Linked DNA regions of Homo sapiens: region 1 is linked to region 2. A link means that fine-mapping ties the variant in region 2 to the expression of a gene that starts in the linked region. Tissue or cell type: caudate. Region 2 holds a variant in brackets; the other region holds the start of a gene. All regions are shown on one strand. Distances are from middle to middle.

Region 1 (10,520 bases), 47 kb after region 2:
TAAAACCGTGGTATATACATACAATGGGGTATTACTAGGCAATAAAAAGGAATGAAGTACTGATACATGCTACAACAGAAATTAACCTTGAAAACAACATACTAGGTGAAAGAAGCCAGACACGAAAGGCCACATACTATATGACTCCCCTTATATGAAATGTCTAGAATAGGCAAATCCATACAGGCATAAAGTAAATTAGTGGGTGGGGATTAGGGGAATGGACGGGCAGTATGGGGAATGACTGGTAATGGGTGCAAACTTTTTTAGAGGGTGATAAATGTTTTAAAATTATGGTGATGGTTGCACAACTCTGAATATACTAAAATCCATTAAATTTTGTACCTTTAAACGGATGACTTGTATAATATGTGAATTGTGTCTCAATGGTGAGTGGTGAGCTATGAGTCTAGACAGGGAAGCAGGAGCCAATTCAGAAAGGGTCTTTCAAATCTGCTTTAAAATGTGAAATATTCATTGATCCATAAAATATTCACAAAAATTCCATTTGAATTCCATAACAATTTTAGTACATTTTTAGTAACAGCATTACCGTAGATATGAAAAAATAGTACATAACATAGGCAAAATATTTATTCTACAGACAATGATTACTACATGTGTGAATTTGAGATCTCCTTGCAATATCTCCTTGGTCCAAAGATGAGAGCAACCAGAACAGGTGCTTTTCATGGACTTAACAAGGAATTCTGTTACTTCGACATAAAATGATGATGGCATATTCTATTGCTTCATCATAAAATGATGATGGCATATTCGTTGTTTCATCATAAAATGATAAAATACTGTGGATCAAAACAAATCAGAAAACTAGAAAACAAAATGTCACATTCCAATTAACTTTTCACAGAATACTCTAACAAAATTTAAGCAAATATAATTAATACTTTTTTCAATTGAGCAGTTACTATAGATAGGACACCATGTTTAGTGATGTGAGGAATAGAAACCTAAGGAATACACACTCACCCTGCCTTCAAGGCATTTAAAATCTAGTAAGGGAGGCAATAAGTTTGAATACATTACTAGCACAGGAGGCAACAGGGTGAGAGGAATAGGGGAAGATAAAAGGTAAGAAGTGCTGAAGGAAGGAAGGACATCAGCAACAGAGTTTGTGATCAGAAACTGAACTGGGAAGTTTCTCATATTTTAAAAAAACAAATGATCTGGGAAATTGGGTTTAGAGAGATTATGCTGACAAAAGCAGTTTATGAGTTCAGCTTTGAAAGACTTAGGTTTTCACACGGAGAGAACAGAGAGCTTTCTAGGCAACAGGAGTGCATGGACAAAGGCAAAACGCTTTGTTGATTAATAAAACTCAGACTACCAGCTCACAGGGGTGGGGAATGATAGGATGAGGCCAAAGCTGAGCCCAGTCTGCTGGATCGTGACTTTAGGCTAAGGAATCTATATGCAAATAAGTAGAGAAAATAACTTGGGGATTGAGTCTGAGATCCACCATATGTTAGTTGCAAAGCAGTTGTGAACTTAACTTTTCCTAGCCTCATCTGGAGACTGGAGATATAATAACAATGCCTGCTTTGATATTGCCCTGAGGATTAAATGCAATAATGCATGTACAGGAACTTCTGACAGCACCCGGCACATACAAGTTCAGCACCTATTACTACTGTTATTAATGTTATTATTCACTATGTAAGCCACCCAAGAATTTTTAACAACATAATGACAGTGCTTAAATAATTTACCTGACCATGGAAAAAACAGAGACAGAGGTAGGAAAACCCACCTGTAGACAATGTTAGGACAGAGTGCATAAGTCCCTAAGACCCTGAACTAAGATGCTGCAGGGCCTCCAGGAAAGGACCAATGTGAGAGACACTGAGACAAGAGTTAGGGTGAGCCTGAAGGTGATCTGAACAGTAGTAATTGGAAAGTCAAAAAAAAAAAATTCCAGAAGGGGCCAGAAAGCTGATGAATGTGTAAATTTAGACAGGAAAGGAATGTGCAGAGAACCATAAACAACTCTCAATTATGCATGGAAGACTTTTTCCACCTAACAGTTTCCATCTTCCCTGGTATCCTACACCTCAATCTCTTCCTCAGGCATTCTAGGTTGCAGGGTTCTCCAACCCTCCCTGGAGTACTACTGAAATAGAATTAACAAATAGGAAAATACAGTACTGCCGAGAAGCACATTATAAATAAAACTGCATTATCCAGACTCTTATGCAGGGGGAAATGTTACACCAGCACCCAAACTGGAATGAAGTGGAAGAAAGAAGGAATCACTAATTCCTTCCCCATCCTCTGTTTTGCCATGAGCCCCTTAGGTGGTACCCATGCCACTCTTCCCCAACTTCTCACCCTCAGTGTCAGCGTAAGAGTAGAGAGTTGAAATGTAGTTGTTTTACTGAAAGCCTACTGCAGGAGCTTTTGGAATTAGTAGCAGTTTCTAACTCTCTACTCTGCATTAGAGAACAGAGGAACTAGCTGGCTTTCCAGCGCTTTCTTTAAGAGGTATAAAGCATTACTGTTCAGGGTTCATTTACCACAATGGGTAAAACAAATCAGATTTCTCTTTAGATTTAGATGAAAGGAGGATTTCCTTTCCTTCTGTATTAAAAGTCCCCAGTCTATCAGGCCCACAAACCATAAACCCAAGCACAAAAATCAATGGCAGTAAGAGTCTCAGGGATTCTGAAAACAGTACATCTAGACACTTGATATCAGCACCAGAAAGTTTACAGCCCAATCTCAGATGGTTTTAATATTTGTATCACTGGATTCTATCATGAGTTAACATCTAATTAGTGGGGCGAGAATTGAAGTCAGACTATTAAAAAATCTAGCTCAGCAATTTACTGGTGACCTTAGGCAAGTTCCTAAACCTCGTTTTCCAATTCTTCACCTGAAAAATGGAGATAACCTCACAACAATGCCCAGCAAGACGGTGAAAATTAAGCTTACGGGCAGGGCGCGGTGGCTCACGCCTGTAATCCCAGCACTTTGGGAGGCCGAGGTGGGCAGATCACAAGGTCAGGAGATCGAGACCACCCTGGCTAACACGGTGAAACCCCGTCTCTACTAAAAATACAAAAAATTAGCCGGTCGTGGTGACGGGCGCCTGTAGTCCCAGCCACCCGGGAGGCTGAGGCAGGAGAATGGCATGAACCCGGGAGGCGGAGTTTGCAGTGAGCCGAGATCGCGCCACTGTACTCCAGCCTGGGCGACAGCGTGAGACTACGTCTCAAAAAAAGAAAAGAAAAAAGAAAATTACAGCTTACTGCAGCCTGGGAGTATCTGGCTTATGATGTAACTATTAACGATTACTGAAAATATATCTCAATAATAAAACAGTAAATCTTTTGGCTAAGCCATAGCTTTTGATACAAATAAAGCTAAATGCCTATTAACTAATGGTGGAAACCACATTTTAGTTTATTCGAAGAGGTCAAGCACAATAGAGACAAAATGGGCTGGAATCCTAGTTCTGCCAGGATAACCTTGGCAACACAGGTTAACCTGCTGGACCCTCAATTTCCCATCTGGTTAAAAATACCTAGCTAACAGACTTCTGTAAGTTTAATGCGGTAATGTACAAAAGTTCCTAGTATTGCTATTTGTTAATTTTCCCAACAGTAAAAAAAGGATAAAGATGAAAATCAAAATCAGCTATGAAATCCTCATTCCTCATATTTACAGAGAAGGTTTCATTTATTCATTCTATAAATGTTTACTGCAAACCTACTGCGTGTTCTTGACACAGGGGATCAAGTGATGAACAAGACAGACAAGGTCTCTGCATTCCTGGTACTTACATCCTAATGAGGGAAGGCAGATAACCCAATAACCCAAAGAGACAATTTCAGAGAGAAATTTAAGTGCTATGAGCAACAGCAAACGGGTGATGTGGCTTGGCTGGAGGGGATGGTCATTTAGCTTGGATGCATAAGAACCTAGGCCTGCTTGACTGATCTCCTTTAGCCAAGTATAGTCCTTTAGCCAAGGACCTCACCTTGTATGATACTTGCGGGGTACAGTGCAGATGATGAGAAGCCAGGCCTTCGCTTTCACCCATCTGTGGAAGTATCTCTTTTGCAGCTGTAGTTTAAAATATTTCTAAATGCCCTCATCCCAATACTCAAACTCTGAGGGTCAGAGCAACACCTAGGGGGTCTCAAGCACCTCTGCGCAGTACGCAGACACATGGAAACCGACAACTTCACAGTCCCCTCAGCTCCAAGAGTCCCGACTGAGGAGACTGGTGGCTTGTGAGGCGGAGAAGGACAAGCACAAGTGTGCAGAAGGCAGCAAGCAAGTTGCGTTGCCGAAGGAAGGGCGGCGCGCCCCTGCTTAAGAAGTATCTGGACGACCTGCGACAGTGCCCATCAGCGACTCCAGAGGCCACAAACGCTCCCCGGGAAGCTGGGCAGCGCTAAGAGGCTGCCTGGGAGTTTCTGGCTTATGATGACAGTACTTAAAGAATTTACCTGACCACGGAATAAACAGAGACAGAGGTAGGAAAACCCAACTGTAGACAACGTTCAGACAGAGTGCATAAGTCCCTAAGACCCTGAACTAAGACGCTGCAGGGCCTCCAGGAAAGGACCAATGTGAGAGACACTGAGACGAGAGTTAGGGTGAGCCTGAAGGTGATCTGAACAGTAGTAATTGGAAACTAACAAAAAAAAAAAATTCCAGAAGGGGCCAGAAAGCTGATGAATATGTAAATTCAGACAAGAAAGGAATGTGCCCTGGGCCTCCAGCCCAGCACCGGGGAGCTGAGCAAGCCGGGGTTGGGAAGGCGGGCGAGCGGAGCGCCTGCCCCGCGAGCGTTGTCTCAGTCTCTCCGGCGCGCCCCATCCCGCGGATGTGGTAAAGCTTCGCGCTCGCCCCAATTTACCAGGCTTCCTGAGCCTCTAGCCCCGGCGTAGCGCCTCCCCGCTGCCCAGGACAGCTCCGCGCGCCGCGTCCTCCCGCACCTGCGCCGCGGCCCCTGCGCTCGGCTCCTCCTGGCGGTCAATCCTCTGAGCCGTCCCTCGAGGGAAGGTGTCCTGGGGTGGGTGAGACCCGGGTCCTCCTTCCCCGGGAGCTGCAGCCGGCACCCAAGCTCCCAGGCTTGGGTCTGCCCCAGGGCCGGAGCCTCCCCGGGCGACTCGGACAGACCCCGGTCCGGCAGAGAACCGCGGCGCCCCGCAAACAGCAGCCCTTCCGAGCCCGCGCCGCCGCCAGGCCCCCCGACACCCAGGCCCCATTTAGGCGGGCGCCCCGCCACTCACCTGAGCGCTGTGCAGCCGGAGACGCTCCCTAGTTCCCCGGGGCCGGGCTCCGGGGTTAGCGCACAGAACCGGGAGAAGGCAACCCCGGCTTCTCCGGTACCCCCGCAACGTGCAGCTGACAGCTCCCGCACCGGCCGCAGGAGTCGGGGGCGGGGATGGCCACTTGCAGACAGACTGCGGGGCCGGAGCCGCGCTGCGCACCGGCCGCGAAGCGCTCAAGTCCCCTCTCCCGGGCCGGCTGGCGGGCGCCACCAGCACGCGGCCAGTTCTGAGTACTTTGCCCAGAACTTCTCGGCGCGCGCCGCCCGGCGATTAGCCCGAGGAGCCGCGCAAGGGCGGGAGCGCAGGGGAGGGGCCTGAGAGGCCCAGGGGCGGGGCCCCGAGGGGGCGGGAGGGCGGCAGAGTGATGCACAATCTCACCAATCAGAAGTCGCCTTTCGGGAAGGAGGTGGGGCGATGTCCTCGGAAGAAGCCAGCGGATTCCATGACGCGGCGGGGGAACTAGGGACCCCGGATTCCGGATGGGTTGGGAGGGCGGAGGGAGGCGAGTCCTGCGGCGAGGCACTGGGTGGGGCTCCCGGTGGCCCAGCTCGGTGCCTGCGCGCGGTAGGCGTTCGGTAAATGTTCCTCTAGTGGCTTTTCCGGGCCAGGGAAGGAGGAAAAAGTGAGGGCAGCGCGGGAGGGGCAGGTTTACGGAGAAGGCTCCAGGGGACCCTTGCGGTCGCACAGGCTAGGAGAACTCGACCTCCCGAGAAAGTCAGACTGTGGCAGAGGAGTCGAGAACAGAGGAAATACATAGGGAGGCAGCACTCTAGGCACGAGATGACAAAGGACAGCATCAGTGTGAGACCCGGGGCTCGGAGACCGTGACCCTACCTCCAGAGGCAGTCGTGCAGATTCGTGCCGGGGTGATTTTGTTCTGTGCAGTTTATGTGCAAGGGGGTAGGAGGTGGGGAGAGCACCGTCGTTACTATTAAATCTCCCTGAAAGACGGAAAAGTCCACCCGACTTGACTTCCCACTAGCCCAATGGCCTTCTTTGATCCTAGGACGAATGCAAGCAGCTGATGGTTTGGGGTCAGTTTGCAGACTGCAAATGTGTCGAGTGCCGCAGGTGGCGGGTGGGAAGGGCATGAGCATTTAGTGAGCACCTAGTATATGCCAGGAGCAGTTGCGAGCTTGCAACTGTGAGAAAGGCGCACCAGGCTCCAGTACTCACGGGGCTTGCATTTTTTGTGGAAAGACAGACAATAAAGAAGAGAAAATACATATCTATGCAAAAAATAAAAGGCTGACAGACTGTTAGTACTGAGAGGAGGGCCAAGTCCACTTTCGAAAGTGGTTTAGCGCGTGATGGGGCGCTCACCCTGAGGGCCTCTAGGCGAGGGTGGCTTTTACCCAGATTCCTGAGCCTGGGAAAGGAGCTGCCACACCCAGTCTCGCACAGAGCGTTCCAGGCGAAGGGAATAGCAAATACAGGGTATTTAGCCTCCCTGAAGACCCAACTAACCGACCTCACCGAGCTGGGCACCGCGCGTGGCTCGCTGGGCTCAGCGCCTGGGACGGAGTAAGGGCTCCACAGTGTTAAATCCCCCTGCCAACCACCACCTGCAGCGCTCGACGCATTTTCAGTCTCCAAACTGACCCCAATTCAAGGTTTCTGAGACTCTTTCCGGAGCTATTCTGTTCACATTTCATTCACCACGCTCAGATCTTCGCTTTCTGGAACCATCCCCCTCGCGAAATGTCTGGGACTGTCTGTTTCGGATCTGGCAGGCGGCGGGCGAGGGCGGGAGGCGCCAGAGATGCTGCCGAGCAAATCCACTGTCATGCTGCCCACGTCGGCACACGGAGAAGCTTATTGGAGAAGATTTCAAATCGAATGACTCCGCGGTTCCTAAACCACCTCGCAAAGCCCGACCAGCGCCAGGTGGCTGGACGGGTAGTGGAAGGACGCGTCTGGCAGGCGCGCGGACCGTCCAAGGAGGCACCTTGCCCACGCCCAGCCCCGCCGTCGGAGCAGCTTAGACTGGGTTTTCCCAAACCTCCTTCCGTCTTTCTGTAATTTCTCTCTGAGAGAGGCTTGCTCTGTCCTCCTCCTGCCAGTCCCTTTCCTCGTTCAAGCTATTTTCTTTCTTTTTCTTTTGCTCTCCACCTTCAGCCTCTCCGCCTGTTTCTTTAGCATTGGTTTTTCTGTAGGAGACAAGCCTTCAATCCGAAAGGAAGTGATTTGCATAGGGCTTTGTTGTTTAGCATCCCGTTCCGAGCTTTTTCATTAATGTCTTCCTAATCAAATAATAATAGAGTGTACATTCTCTCTCTCTCTCTCTCTCTCTGTGTGTGTGTGTGTGTGTGTGTGTGTGTGTGTGTGTGTGTGTGTACTTGAGGCAGTTAATTGGACAGGATGAGAGAATTATTCACATTGTGCCTTGTCTCCAAGTAAAGGAGGAATCGTACTGTGGCTTTTCATAGTTTCATTTCCTCTTCTACTCCTAAATAAACTTCCAGGCTCTCCAGCTCCTAAAATCAAAAGGAAAAAATAAAAATAAAAGTTGAAACCCACGCAGAGCTAATTATTCTTGAAAAAGTTTGTTAATGTTCTAAAATCAGCTTTCTCCTCAGCGTCTTATTTTAAAATAACGATTTGAATGTCTAATAAAGACCAGTGGTTCCATATTAAGAGTTCCTAGAGACCCTCTTCTTTGAACTGTTGAACAAATAATTTTTCTCTTTGGAGACAAGCCCACCACAGTGGGAATTTTTCACATGTGACACAGTGGTCTTAGCTTCTGAAATTGGTAATAGGTAAGCGGGTGCTACTTGAGTTTGCATGTTTTGATAGTAAAGGAAACTGAGGGCCTCTAGAATCAGACTACCTCAGTTCCTGTCTTGTGATGACCACCTGATTCTGCAATCACCTTTCCTTGTCTGTAAAATGGAGATATTTATGTAGCTGCTGGACTACAGGAAGAGTTTGATCATCCATTTGCAAACAATTTCCGCATAGTCTAGTGCAGAGTTCTCAACCTCAGCTCTATTAACATTTTAGGGAGATAATTCTTTCCTGCTGGAGGTAAAGGTTGGGGGGGTGCTGTCTTGTGCATTTAGCAGCATCTCTGGCCTCCACCTACTAGATTCAAGGAACACCCTGTCCTCCCCAGTTGTAACAACAAAAAATCTCCAGACTTTTGCCAGAAGTCCTCTGGAGGGCAAAATCCCCCCTGATGAGAACCACTGGCATAACACATAGTACGTGCCTGCAGGAGGCGATATAGGGAAATGCTTATGGATATGGGTTTCTAAGGTGTGAACCTCAGGCAAATTTTGTTTTCTTAAGCCTCATCTGTAAAATAGGAATGATAATAATGCTAACTTCTTAAAGTTGTCTAAGGATTAAATACAATTGTGAATGTAAAAGCAATTTGCATAGTGCCTGGCACATGGTAAACTCAAAAGACTCAAAAGCTTCTGGTCTCATTTTTTTTCCTGTGAAGAGAAGGCATTGGGCTAAATTAGGGATGACACATCTTGACTTATTTGCTGCCACTTTCCTCCCGCCTTGTAGCAGACATCATTATGGCAGTCAAGGCTGCCTTATCCGCTAAGTCCAAATAGAGCCTCAGAATCGTTCTCAACACTGCGAGAAGCTGCCACTGATAGGCCAAGATCAGCATGTAAGATAATGCTGAATTGCCATTCTGGGGCTAGATGAACTTTAAGATCCCTAATAGTGTCAGTCTTCTGATATGATTACAAGTGAGGAGGAACTATTGTTTATCACTTCATCAACTTCTTTTATGAAGGGGTGGCGGAGCAAGGCCCAGAAAGTTGCTAGTGTCTTGACCATAATCATACAGCCTATGAATGGTCAGAGGCTAAGTCTCCTCTTAAAGAGCCATCTTTTTGCCACATCTACTGCCTATGGAAAGTGGGAAAAACACTTGTCTAAAGCAGAGTTGCCACCCTCTCCACCCTGTACAGCCCTACTCATCTTCTTCCTCCTTCACTTTTATCTGAAAAATGAATCAAAGTATTTAGTTGCATATGAACACCTTGTAAGCATTCTTTTACAACTGTTAGTATAATTCTTGACAAGGATTGTTCAAAAATTCACCAATTCCTTTATTAAATATAGATTGCCTGCTTTGTGTAAGGGATCATTCTTAGCAAGCACTTTAAAGTGAATAAAAATGAATCAGTGAGTGTCCCTTCAGTGCTTTTGTAGTTTTCTATATTGGGCAGATCAGATGTGGACATAAATAACTACAACACAAGCTAAAAAATGGAAGATGTCCTAAGAGGTACCAAAAATGTGTTCAGAGCAGAGAGAAATTATTTTGGGAATTAGGAGCAGAGAGCCATTTCCTGCATGTCTTTGTTAACGTTTTTAACTTTTGAACAAAAATGTATTTATTACAGTAAAGTTATCCTTGTAGAGGAAGTTGCAACATTGTTAGTTTTCCTGGTTCAGATATATTTCCTGCTTAGTTTAAGTCAATACGATCAGTGCAACTAAAAGTCACAGATTATTCTAATTCTAAATTGTTTTTCATCAGCTGTTTACAATTTCTGGGACATTCTAGAGGAAGATTGCTCACCTTTAGTTTCCTTTCTTTTCTTTTCTTTTTTTGTTTTTTTTTTTTTGAGACAAGATCTCACTGTTGCCTAGGCTGGAGTGCCGTGGTGGTGTTCCCAGACCAAACTAAGTGTTGGGCTGCTATTTCTCGTGGCCCAATAATGAGATGCAGATGAACTGGGGAGGAAAAGAGTTTTTATTTTTGCAACTGGGTACGGGGAGAAGGCCTGGAGATCATCGCCAGACCAACTCCAAATTACAAAGTTTTCCAGAGCTTATATACTTCCTAAGTTATATGTCTACATGTAAGTATGCATTCATCTAACACATAAGTAATTAACTTCTTTTAATCTGTAACTAAGGTCTGAGTCCTGAAGACCTTCCTCTGGAGCCTGAGTAAATTTACTTAATCTAAATGGGTCCAGGTGCTGGAATGATTACCCTTATCTTGTCTCCTGCTAAAGCATGGAAGTTTGGGGAGTTCCTTCCAACCCCCCCAATAAGCTTGTTTGTGGAAGCCTGGGGAGTTTCTTCAGACCCACAATAAAACTTGTTTAATCCTAAATGAGTCCTGTTAAGAATTCCTTCATTATTTTGTCGTGCTTTAAGTCCCAGGAAAGGCCTAGGCAAAACTCTTGGTGGGCTTTTCTTACACCTCAGCCTTTGTATAAGGGCACTGGC
Region 2 (10,520 bases):
ATAACAGAAGGTTTACCATTTTGAGAGAGAAAATAGGACTACAGAAAATTCAATGGCATGATAAAAATATTTTACACTTTATACCAACTGTGCTTTGCTGTTCCACACCTTAGCTTCTCACTACCCTATCTCTTTTTGTAAAGAAAAAAAATGCTTCTTGAGGTATAATTTATATCCAATAAAATGCACCTGATACGGTTTGGGTCTGTGTCCCTGCTCAAATTTTAATCTCCAGTGTTGGAGGTAGGGCCTGGTGGGAGGTGATTGGATCATGGAGATAAATTTCCCCTTTGGTGCTGTTCTCATGATAGTGAGTATTGTGAGATCTTGTTGTTCAAAAGTGTGTAGCACCTCCTCCTCTCTACCTTCCTCCTGCTCAGGCCATGAAAGATGTGTCTGCTCCCCCTTCGCCTTCTGCCATGATTGTAAGTTTCCTGAGGCCTCCCGAACCATGTGTCCTGTACAGCCTGAGAATGGTGAGCCAATTAAACCTTCCTTTTTGTTTTTTTTTTTTTTTGAGATGGAGTCTCGCTCTGTCACCCAGGCTGGAGTGCAGCAGCACGATCTCAGCTCACTGCAAACTCCGCCTCCCAGGTTCACGCCATTCTCCTGCCTCAGCCTCCCGAGTAGCTGGGACTATAGGCGCCCGCCACCACACCCGGCTACTTTTTTGTCTTTTTAGTAGAGACGGGGTTTCACCGTGTTAGCCAGGATGGTCTCGATCTCCTGACCTCGTGATCTGCCCACCTTGGCCTCCCAAAGTGCTAGGATTACAGGCATCAGCCACCGTGCCCGGCCACCTCTTGTCTTTATAAATTACCCAGTCTCAGGGTATTTCTGTATAGCAGTAAGAGAATACAGCACCCCTTTTAAGTGTACAGACTGATGAGTTTGGAGCAAATGTATATGCCTATGTAACCATCGCTTCAATCAACACCTCAAAGAACATTCCCTCACCCAAAGAGCTCCCTCATGCCCTTTTGCAGTCAACTCTAACCCTGATGCCTCTGATTTCTATCACTACCATCTGGTTTTACCTGTTCTAGGACTTTGTATTAATGGAATCATACAGAATATGCTCTTTTCTTTTATGGCTCCTTCACCTCAATATGATGTTTCTGAGTTTCAGCCATGTTGTTGCTAATATCAGTGGTCCCTTCTTTTTTGCTGCTGAGTAGCATTTTGTTGTATAAATGCACCACAATTTATCTGTTCACCAGCTGATGAACATTTGAGTTGTTTCCAGTTTTTACTTGTTACAATCAAGCTGCTATTAACATTTGTATTACAGGCCTTTCTCTTGGGTAAATACAAAGAAGCAGTACGACGGGCCAGAGGGTAAGCGTGTTTAGCTTTAGAAATTGCCAAACTGCTCTCCAAAGTAGCTGCACCTCTTTATACTCCCACCAGCCATGTCTGACAGCTCTAGTTGCTCCACATCCTAGCCAACATTTGCTATTGTCAGTCTTTTACATTTTAGTCATGCTGATGGGTGTGCAGGTGTGCCTCACTGTAGTTTAATTTAGAAGGTCTGAAATCTGTTTCGTTCAGTGTGTAACTTTTTCCTCTTTCTAAGGAACACAGGCAATGTGGTATACTGAAAGGTCGCTGGATCAGGGTCGTTGTCGTAAATTTTATCACCAACTTTGTCATTAAATAGTTGCTAACGCCGTAAAGACCATCTATCCCACCTCATTTCTTCCCTATTGATAAAATAGTTAATTGAGCCAAATGAGGCTTAAATTCTTGTACTAAGTAAAAATGAACATCAATAAGTTTTACCAAAAATATCGCAGTACTTTCATAATAGTTTAGCACTTTTTTTTTTACAGACTGTCCCACAGGTTTCAAAGAGAATTTGTATATTAATATATTCTATTTCATGCTATAATTCTCTCCCAAATACCACACTTTTTTTTTAAGGAATAAGAATTCATCAAGAAAGGAGTTCCATTCAATGGAAGGCTCCCTCCTTGCCTGCTGCTTCCAAGCTAATTTGCCAAATCATGAACTTTGATGTGAACATTAATGCATTCCGTTTATAGTCATCTGAGTTTAATTCCAAATTGTACCTGTTTTTAAAAAACGTTTCTGATTCCAAAAGCATAAGTAATCATCCTTGGTCATGTATGTTTTGCTCACTAAGCTTTAAATTGTGGAGTGAATCAATTGGCAAATCTTTGGATTTCATTTGATATCTGCTGTATGCTTATACAATATCTCTTTACTATTGTTCAGCCTCGTATATCTAGCAATGTAAAAAAAACCAACCAAATCCCCAAAGTTAGTCTTCACCTCTCTGGGTTCTCATAGAGCAAGGTAAGGGTAAAGTAAAGGTGAAGGCATCGTTAATGATAAAGGAAGGAAAATATCATACATTCTTTATGAGAAAACTTTAGGAGTTAGAAGAAAGGGTAACTAATGATTTTTTAAGAGGTTAACCTGGAAAGGTTAATGACCAACTGAATTGATGGCTTTATTCTTCTAATTAACTAATGATCAAAGGTGAGGCAGAAATGCATGGCAAAACTGAAGGAAACTAGTTTTTTCAGTTCCAAGGAAATATGCACTAAAATAAAAAAAATGTGCAAATAAAACATCTGGTGTTTGTAGGAATACATGGGAAAAACTCAACACTTTTTGTTGTCAATTCCTGTCTAAACAAACAAATTTTATACTGCCTATCCAAGATTAAGATTACACTTAACAAAGGTTTCCCATCTCTTGTTCTAAAGATATCTCAAAATATGCCAAGAAAAAAAAAGTAAACTTTTTATTGCTGACAGCAAAAAAGACACAGGTTTCAGTGGGAGGTCTATTTCAATAGGAATGGGGGACACTGAGTTGCAGCTAAAAAAAGATCACATATTAAAAATACATATGCAGTGTACTTCAAAGGGCCTCTTACCTAAGGGGGAAATGAAGAATAAAGCCATCAATTCAGTTGGTCATTAACCTTTCCAGGTTAACCTCTTAAAAAATTTAATGAAAGTTATGGTCCAGTCTTTCCAGAAATGATTATATGGTTTTGCACAGTCCCAAAGGGTCTGGCTCTCTGAAAGCCTTCTGTGGAGTCTTTAAGGGTTTAAGAACCTAGGTTGAGGTGAAGGATTTCTGATTAAATGAATTCATCAATGAGATTTTGTCACTGAAACTTGACCTATATCCAAAAACAAGTAGGCAAACCTCTCTCCAATCCAAATGCCAAATACATACATGGTAGAATGTGAAGATGACTTTTTTAATTCCAAAAATTATTTAACATTCTCACAGGAAGTACGTGTTCAGAGGCAAAAAGTGAGCTGTGGGAAGACAGATGCTCCCAGACATCCATTTCCCAACCATTGCTTCCTGAACATCAAGGTAAGCCAACAAGTCTGAACAGTCATTTGAGGGGGTGGTGTCAGTTCCTTCCATTTCTAGAATAGGTCTTTTCTAAAAGGAGGTATTCATTGTGGGGCACAGAGGGAGGAGTATGAATGGCTAACAAAAATGTTTGTGAGCAGACTGAAAAGTGTTATTTAATTTGGAAAAAAATTCAGAACTATAGGTGAAAAGAGATAATTTGGGAACTCTGGGTTATAAGTTATGTGCCTGTCTGTGGTAGGCAGAATAATGGTCCACAAATATGTCCATGTTCTAACCCCCAGAAGCACTGAATGTACCTTATATGGCAAAAGGGACTTCTCAGATATGATGGGGAGATTATCCTGGATTGTCCTGGGAGGTCTGATCTAACCACAAGGGTCCTTATAAGAGGGCGTCAGGAGATGTAGAAGGCAATGTGATGATGGAAACAGAGGAAGAAAAGGAGATGTGATGTGAAGCCATGAGCCAAGGAATGCAAGCAGCCTCTAGAAGACAGAAAAAGCATGGAAGTGAATTCTCCACAAAAGCCTCCAAAAGAACAATGCCCGTTGACACCTGATTTTAGTTTTCTGACCTCCAGAACTGAAAGAAAATAAAATTGTGTTAGTTTAAGTCATAAATTTAAACAACTTAAGCTTAAAGCAACTTAATTTGCTATAGCAGTAATAGGCAACTAATATAGTCTTTCCTAAAAGAAAAAAAAAAGGAAGGGGATGTAAGGAAATAAAGAGAAGTATGAAACAGCATGTGAAAAAGCATTTTCTGATGAACAACAAACACTTGCATCAACAAGACTGATACTGTCTCAAATGTGGTCCTGAGCCAGCAATATATGGGGAAGCTGAGGCTTAATGGAAAAACATTAGGAGTTAGAAAACCTGGGCTCTCATCCTCACTCTCCCACATACAGCTGTGTCATCGCGTAAACACAACCCCTTTGGGTCTCAGTGACTGATCTGTAAAACAAAACATGTAGACTAGATGAATGATAATCTCTCCTTAACAAAGGCCAGAGGGCTTTCCCTACAGACTGGTTCAAACCAGTGGTCAGTTTTCCCATAAACCAGTTCCCATAAACCATGTCTTATTTAATTAATAAGAAATGAATGGGCACATTTGTCCCACTTTAAAGCTTCGGCAACTGAGGCTTAACAAGGTCATATTTGTCCACCATCACTGGAATTTGAATGCAGGCATTTCGGACTGAAGATCACCTTTTTATCCAGTGTACTTGCAGCATTCCCCGGTCAAGTTTCAAGCTGTGCGCCCAGGGGTCTGAGATAGGTTAGAATGCAAGAGCAAGAGAACACCACCAACACAAACCAGGATCATAAACATCCTAGAGAAAATGAAAGGGAAAAGGGGGTGCTCTGGTGAGAATGTTGATGTCCCCCTGAAATTCATACATTAAAACCTAGTCACCAATTTGATGGCATTGGGATGTGGGGTCTTTGGGAGGTGATTAGGTCATGAAGGCAGAGCCCTCATGAATGGGACTAGTGCCCTTTTAAAGATTCCCCACAGAGCTGCCTTGTCCCTTCCACCCTGTGAGCACACAGCAAAAAGGCACTGTCTACCAACCAAAAAACGAGCCTCCCAAGACACCAAATCCAATAGTACTTCGATCTTGCATTTTCCAGCCTCCAGAACTACGAGAAGTAAATTTCTGATGTTTATAAGCCACCCAGTTTATGCTATTTTGTTAGAGCAGCCCAAATGGACTAAGACAGGGGCAAAGACCAAACTGCCTTATATTCAAGCATTTGAAATGTTGGGCATTCAGGAACGATCTTTCTAAGATCACTTTTTAAAAGAAACAAAAACTTTCAAGACTCCAACTGGTCCCCGGGGACAGACCCCCACTGTTCTGTAAGGCAGAATGCCATGTTACAAACCAGTGAACCGTCTTTCCTCCATATTCAAATTCCACACCGGACCTGATGCTGCTGCACCAACTCCAGTCTTCACGGTTCACAG[G/A]AGGAGAATGGAAGGGCTGCTGCCCAAAATAGTTTAATAAGGCCAGCAGTGATTCAGAGAGTAATAACAGGCCACGCACGCAGACGCCTGCAGAACTGGGACCCAGCTGAGAGGGGGGTTCGCTGCTCAAGGTTAAAATGGGGAATAAAGAGGACAGGGACATTCAATTACACGTGTTCAAAGGAGAAAAGATCATGAGTACCACCTGCAAACTCCCAAAAAGGCAGTCAAATAAGAGGCATTTCAGCTTGACAATTTAGTAACACTGCTCTAGAGTCAAAAAAAGAACCAACCCATGAAGGTAAAAAGCAACCTTGCCAACATACACCCTTTAGAACATTTTCTCTCTCAATGGACTCTGATTTGTTACTGAATAATTTCATGGACATAACAATATGTTAAGTTTATGAATATTTAAAAAGATGCCCAACATCAGGAGAACAAAAAAAATCCAGAAAAACATCGAGAAAACTTTATTAACAGTCTCAAGCTAGTCTAAACCCCAAACAAGATTCACCCTACCATGCAAAACACTTAAATCATTAATATTTCCGATTATGCTTCCATTCCCAAGAAAAACTAGTAATTGAGCAAAACTCTAAGCTTGTGTAAAAAAGAAATGTTGCATTTCTATCATTTATTTATCTTAAACTCCAGTTGAGGCAAGTATTTGCCTATGCTCTCAGTTCTGATCATAAGTTGATATTTAAATAATTAGTTATGAGAAAAGCAAACCAATGGGTAATTCCCAAAGTTACTATCTGCTTTTGCTATCAAAGTTTGGAATTTCAGTCAAATATACAGCGAAACATATATACACAAGAGCTATGCCACTTAGCATAAATAGAGTAAAACAACAAATACTAAGATTTGTTGGCATTAAATCAGTTTAGTCTATAAATACCTTTATAGATGACATTAGAAAAGCAAAGTTTAAGAATGCAGATAGACCATGTGTGTAATAGCTCTAAAATAGGAATCTGATAGGAAGTTAATTTTCTCAGCTGGAGCCAAGAGTTCAAGCTTGTAACTGATGGAAAATAAGGTCATATTGGAGCAGTCTTTTACATGAAAAATTAAATCTCACCACTTCAATACAGGCCTCATTTTAAAAACACCAGTATCAATCATCTCAACAAATTTTTATTCAAATATTACACAGATATGGCATGTTCAACACTGATCTTATTGACAAGTGTAAGCCTGCTTTGCTGGATGTCTCAGAAGCAATAACCCTTTCATTATAATCCTTTCTTGTGTCTGAGTTTTAAGCTTTAATGACAGATAACCGAGTTCCTCAGATCAAAGACACAATAATAGCCGGGAATAGAACATAAGTGAAATGAACAGTGTCAACAACACAAAACAAAACACCTTCATTTACTGGTAGAGAATAGAGTACCTGCTGTGCCTAAATGGAAAACAACCCTCATATACTGCATGTGTTATCAAAAACATATCTATCTTTTGGCCCCCAACCACTAGGGAGTAGCACAAAGTACATTAGGGTTTCAAGAAGTCTATCATGCAAGCTGATCTTCTCAAAATCGGATTAGAAATCAGGATGAACCATATCAAGGAAACTCAGCATAACTACTTAGACGGCTTTATCCTTTAAATAAATGCTGTAAAATAGAGTTTGTCATACAGCTTACTTTTGAATGGATCTTTTCTGGAAATATTTCACCCTTCAGAAGTGATATAATGACACAGGTTTGAATTAGGCCAATTTTCAGTTATGTCTTCTGTTCCTTGGCTTGGGATTCAACATCCTTGGACTTTTGGCAACAGGCAGATGGAAACGCCAGAAATTATAATTTTGCTGAAATGCCTTCTTTCTGGGGGACTTAATTATTTCTACTGCATGGGTTTGTTTCATTTTACATAATGCATTTTCTTAAAAATTGTATGTAGCCATTTAAAATGACTCACAAGAACTTTTAGTGGCTTTTCCTTTAAGCCCCCTTTCAAAAAATATGTACAAGGTTGCTCATCATAAGGTTGTTTGTACTAGTAAAGAAAGGAAAACATCTCAATGCATAGAAAATTTGATAAATAATTTGTAGTACAACTACATAATAACCTATAAGACATCCATTAAAATGATAAAACAGGCATGAGGGAGGCTTTTTAATTGAAGAAATATATATTCACAAGAAGTTGCAAAAATACTGCAGAGTGGTCCAGTGTACCCTTCACTCAGCACCCACCAATGGTAACATCTTATGTATAACTACAATCAAAAACAGGAAATTAATATTGGCACACTACAATTAGGCTACACAGTTTACTCAGATTATGGTAAGCTACAGAACTTACTCAGAAACTCACCAATTTTTACATGTACTCACTTTGTGTGTATGTGTATATATGTATTGTATATATTTCCATAAAATGTTATCTCATATATATTTATGTAATCGCCACCACAAACAAGATACAGAATTGTCCATCACCACAGAGAAAACTACAAGGGAACTTTTTACACTACTAGAAATGGTCTATATCTTGACCTGGGTGGTGGTTAGGCCATATACTTCAGTTATACAATTTAGATTATAAAGTATGCTTATATCTAAAAAGAATGATGAAAAGTTCTATTGATTGATGGCACATTAGGTTTTTTTAAAAGTTACAAAACAATATTTATAGAATGATTCAATTCTCACATGTGTCTCTATGTGCCTGGGGGTGGGGTGGGGGAACACCAATATTTAATTTTCTTCTACAAATTCTATTTTATGTATTCTGGCATCTATTTTGCAATGAGTATGAGTTGCTTTAATAAAGCAGAGAAAAAGACCAAAAAAAAGGTATGTTCTGTATATTCTCGAAGAAGGAATCTTTTTTTTTTATTATTATACTTTAAGTTTTAGGGTACATGTGCACAATGTGCAGGTTAGTTACATATGTATACATGTGCCATGCTGGTGTGCTGCACCCATTAACTTGTCATTTAGCATTAGGTATATCTCCTAAAGCTATCCCTCCCCCCTCCCCAGGAATCTTTTTTTTTTATCACCATTTAATTCATTCTTAAGATTTCTTCTGGTTGAAAACTACCATCTTTTGTATCACTCCCCTAAAACACAACCTCTATCAACTTCATAATGAAGGGGCCTTAAGTTACTGGTTCCAGTAAAAGATAAACTTGAAAAGTTCTTCCCCATGAAGCTGAGTGAGTAAGTAAGAACATATGCGAATATTTCAAAGGAAGCTGAGACAGTGAATACAGGCTGTTACTTAGGGCTAACTTTTCCTCTCACAATCCACAAACATGAATACGTTCTTTCAATATAACCTTTAATGACCACAGACTATGTACTAAAATTATGCAAAGGTTCTCCAAGACCTCAACATGCACAAGACAAAGATCTTGCTCTTAACAAGGTCAAAACTGCAATGCAATACAATGGGCCAAGTTCTTAACACCACCAATGAGAATAAAGTCCTGGGAGTATATGGAGAAGTAAACAGCCAATTCTGTCTAGGAGTGGGAAAGCAGAATGACTCTGAGAAAGGAAGGACCCTAGCTGTGGGCCTTGAAACCTCCTATTTGGGCTTCTGCCAGGTGGCAAAGAGAAAATGAAAATAGGGGAAAGAGTCACTCTAGTCACAGAGACTGCCTGCAGGCACAAATACTTTGAGGGCCTGCTGGAGAACAGGTATGTAGAAGTTAGGGAAGATGTGAAGGGATATGATTCTGGAAACAATCGTGAATAACATGATAAAAGTTTGCCTGCATTATCCTATATGCAGTAGGAAACTCAAAGGCTTTTAAACAGAGGACTAGACTGGTATCAGTATCAAAAGTGAGTTGGAATGAGAGAATGGAATAGGAAGATAAATTATTGAGCTCTTAAAACTATATACCGGGTGAAAAACAATGAGGTCCTGACTAGAGGCAGCAACAGCAGTTGTCATAGAAAAGGATACTGTATTAGTCCATTCTTGTGCTGCTAATAAAGACATACCCAAGACTGGGTAATTTATAAAGGAAAGAGGTTTAATTGACTCACAGTTCAGCATGGCTGGGGAAGCCTCAGGAAACTTACAATCATGGCAGAAGGGGAAGCAAACATGTCCTTCTTCACATGGCGGCAGGAGAAATGCCGAGCAAAAGGGGGAAAAGGCCCTTATATTATAAAACCATCAGATGTAGTGAGAACTAACTTATTATCATGAGAACAGGATGGAGGGAACCTCTCCCATAATTCAATTTTCTCCCACCAGGTCCCTCCCACAACACGTGGGGATTATGGGAACTACAATTCAAGTTTTGTAGCAGCTTTGGGTGGGAACACAGCCAAACCATATCAGTAAATTTTTATTTCAATTGTTTAACTATTATGAATGGGCTCATTCTGTATATAATCCCCAATTTGACTTTTATGTTCAACATTATTCTTGAGGTTTACCCATAAGGATACATATAGTTTTAGTTCTTTCTGCTTTATAGAATTTAATTTACTGAGTCCATTATAGTTATTTATCCATCTTACTCATGGACATTTAGGTTGCTTCCAATGTTTTTCTCTAACAAACAATACAGCAGTGAACAGAGCATACATGAGACGTCCCAATACATGTGCCACACTTTTACATATCTGGAAATAGAACTGGAGGTTTATGGTGCTATCAGGCATAAAACATGAAACACCTTAAACCTAACTAATTACTTATTACCAAATCATTCTCCAAGCTGGTTGTTCCAAATGATATTGCCATTAATAAAACATGAGCTCCCATCTTACATGTCTTTGCCCATACTTGGTGTAGTCAAACTATTTAATTTGAACAAATTTGTGAGTGTAGAAACGATATTCTTGTTCTGGTTTTATATTATGCTTCCAGAATCGAAAGGTATTTCCAAAGTATAATCCATGAATTAGGATGTGGACAGTGAAGGACAGAGAAGAAAACTATGGAGTGTTCTGCTTGGGTAACAAAAGTAGAAATATCTGTTAGGAACTACATTTAACTGCAACCGATAAGATACTTCCTCCTTATCTCCAAATGGTGGCCTAAATATACAAGGGCTTATTTGCTATGGGCTGAAAGTTTCTGTCCCGCCAAAACTGGTATGTTGAAACCTAATCACCAACCTGATGGTATTAGGAGTTGGAGCCTTTGGGCGGTGATCAAGTCATGAGGGCTCCCCCTTTGCATGGGAT

The links. PIP is the estimated chance that this variant, and not a neighbour inherited with it, causes the effect.
Region 1: it holds the start of OSBPL3, and the variant in region 2 is fine-mapped to the expression of OSBPL3 in caudate (GTEx, PIP above 0.99). The same link has a PIP of 0.9 or more in nucleus accumbens and thyroid.

The regions. Positions count from the first base shown.
Region 1 is chr7:24,974,622-24,985,141 of GRCh38, forward strand. It overlaps OSBPL3 (oxysterol binding protein like 3), which reads right to left and starts at 5,557. Exons shown (of 23, transcript NM_015550.4): 1 at 5,265-5,557. RefSeq lists silencers at 4,947-5,156, 5,207-5,716 and an enhancer at 6,857-7,026.
Region 2 is chr7:24,927,693-24,938,212 of GRCh38, forward strand. All of the region lies in intron 1 of OSBPL3 (oxysterol binding protein like 3), which reads right to left. Among named protein-coding and RNA genes, the nearest start is that of OSBPL3, 47 kb to the right of the region's middle. The variant G/A (reference allele first, on the strand shown) is at 5,347.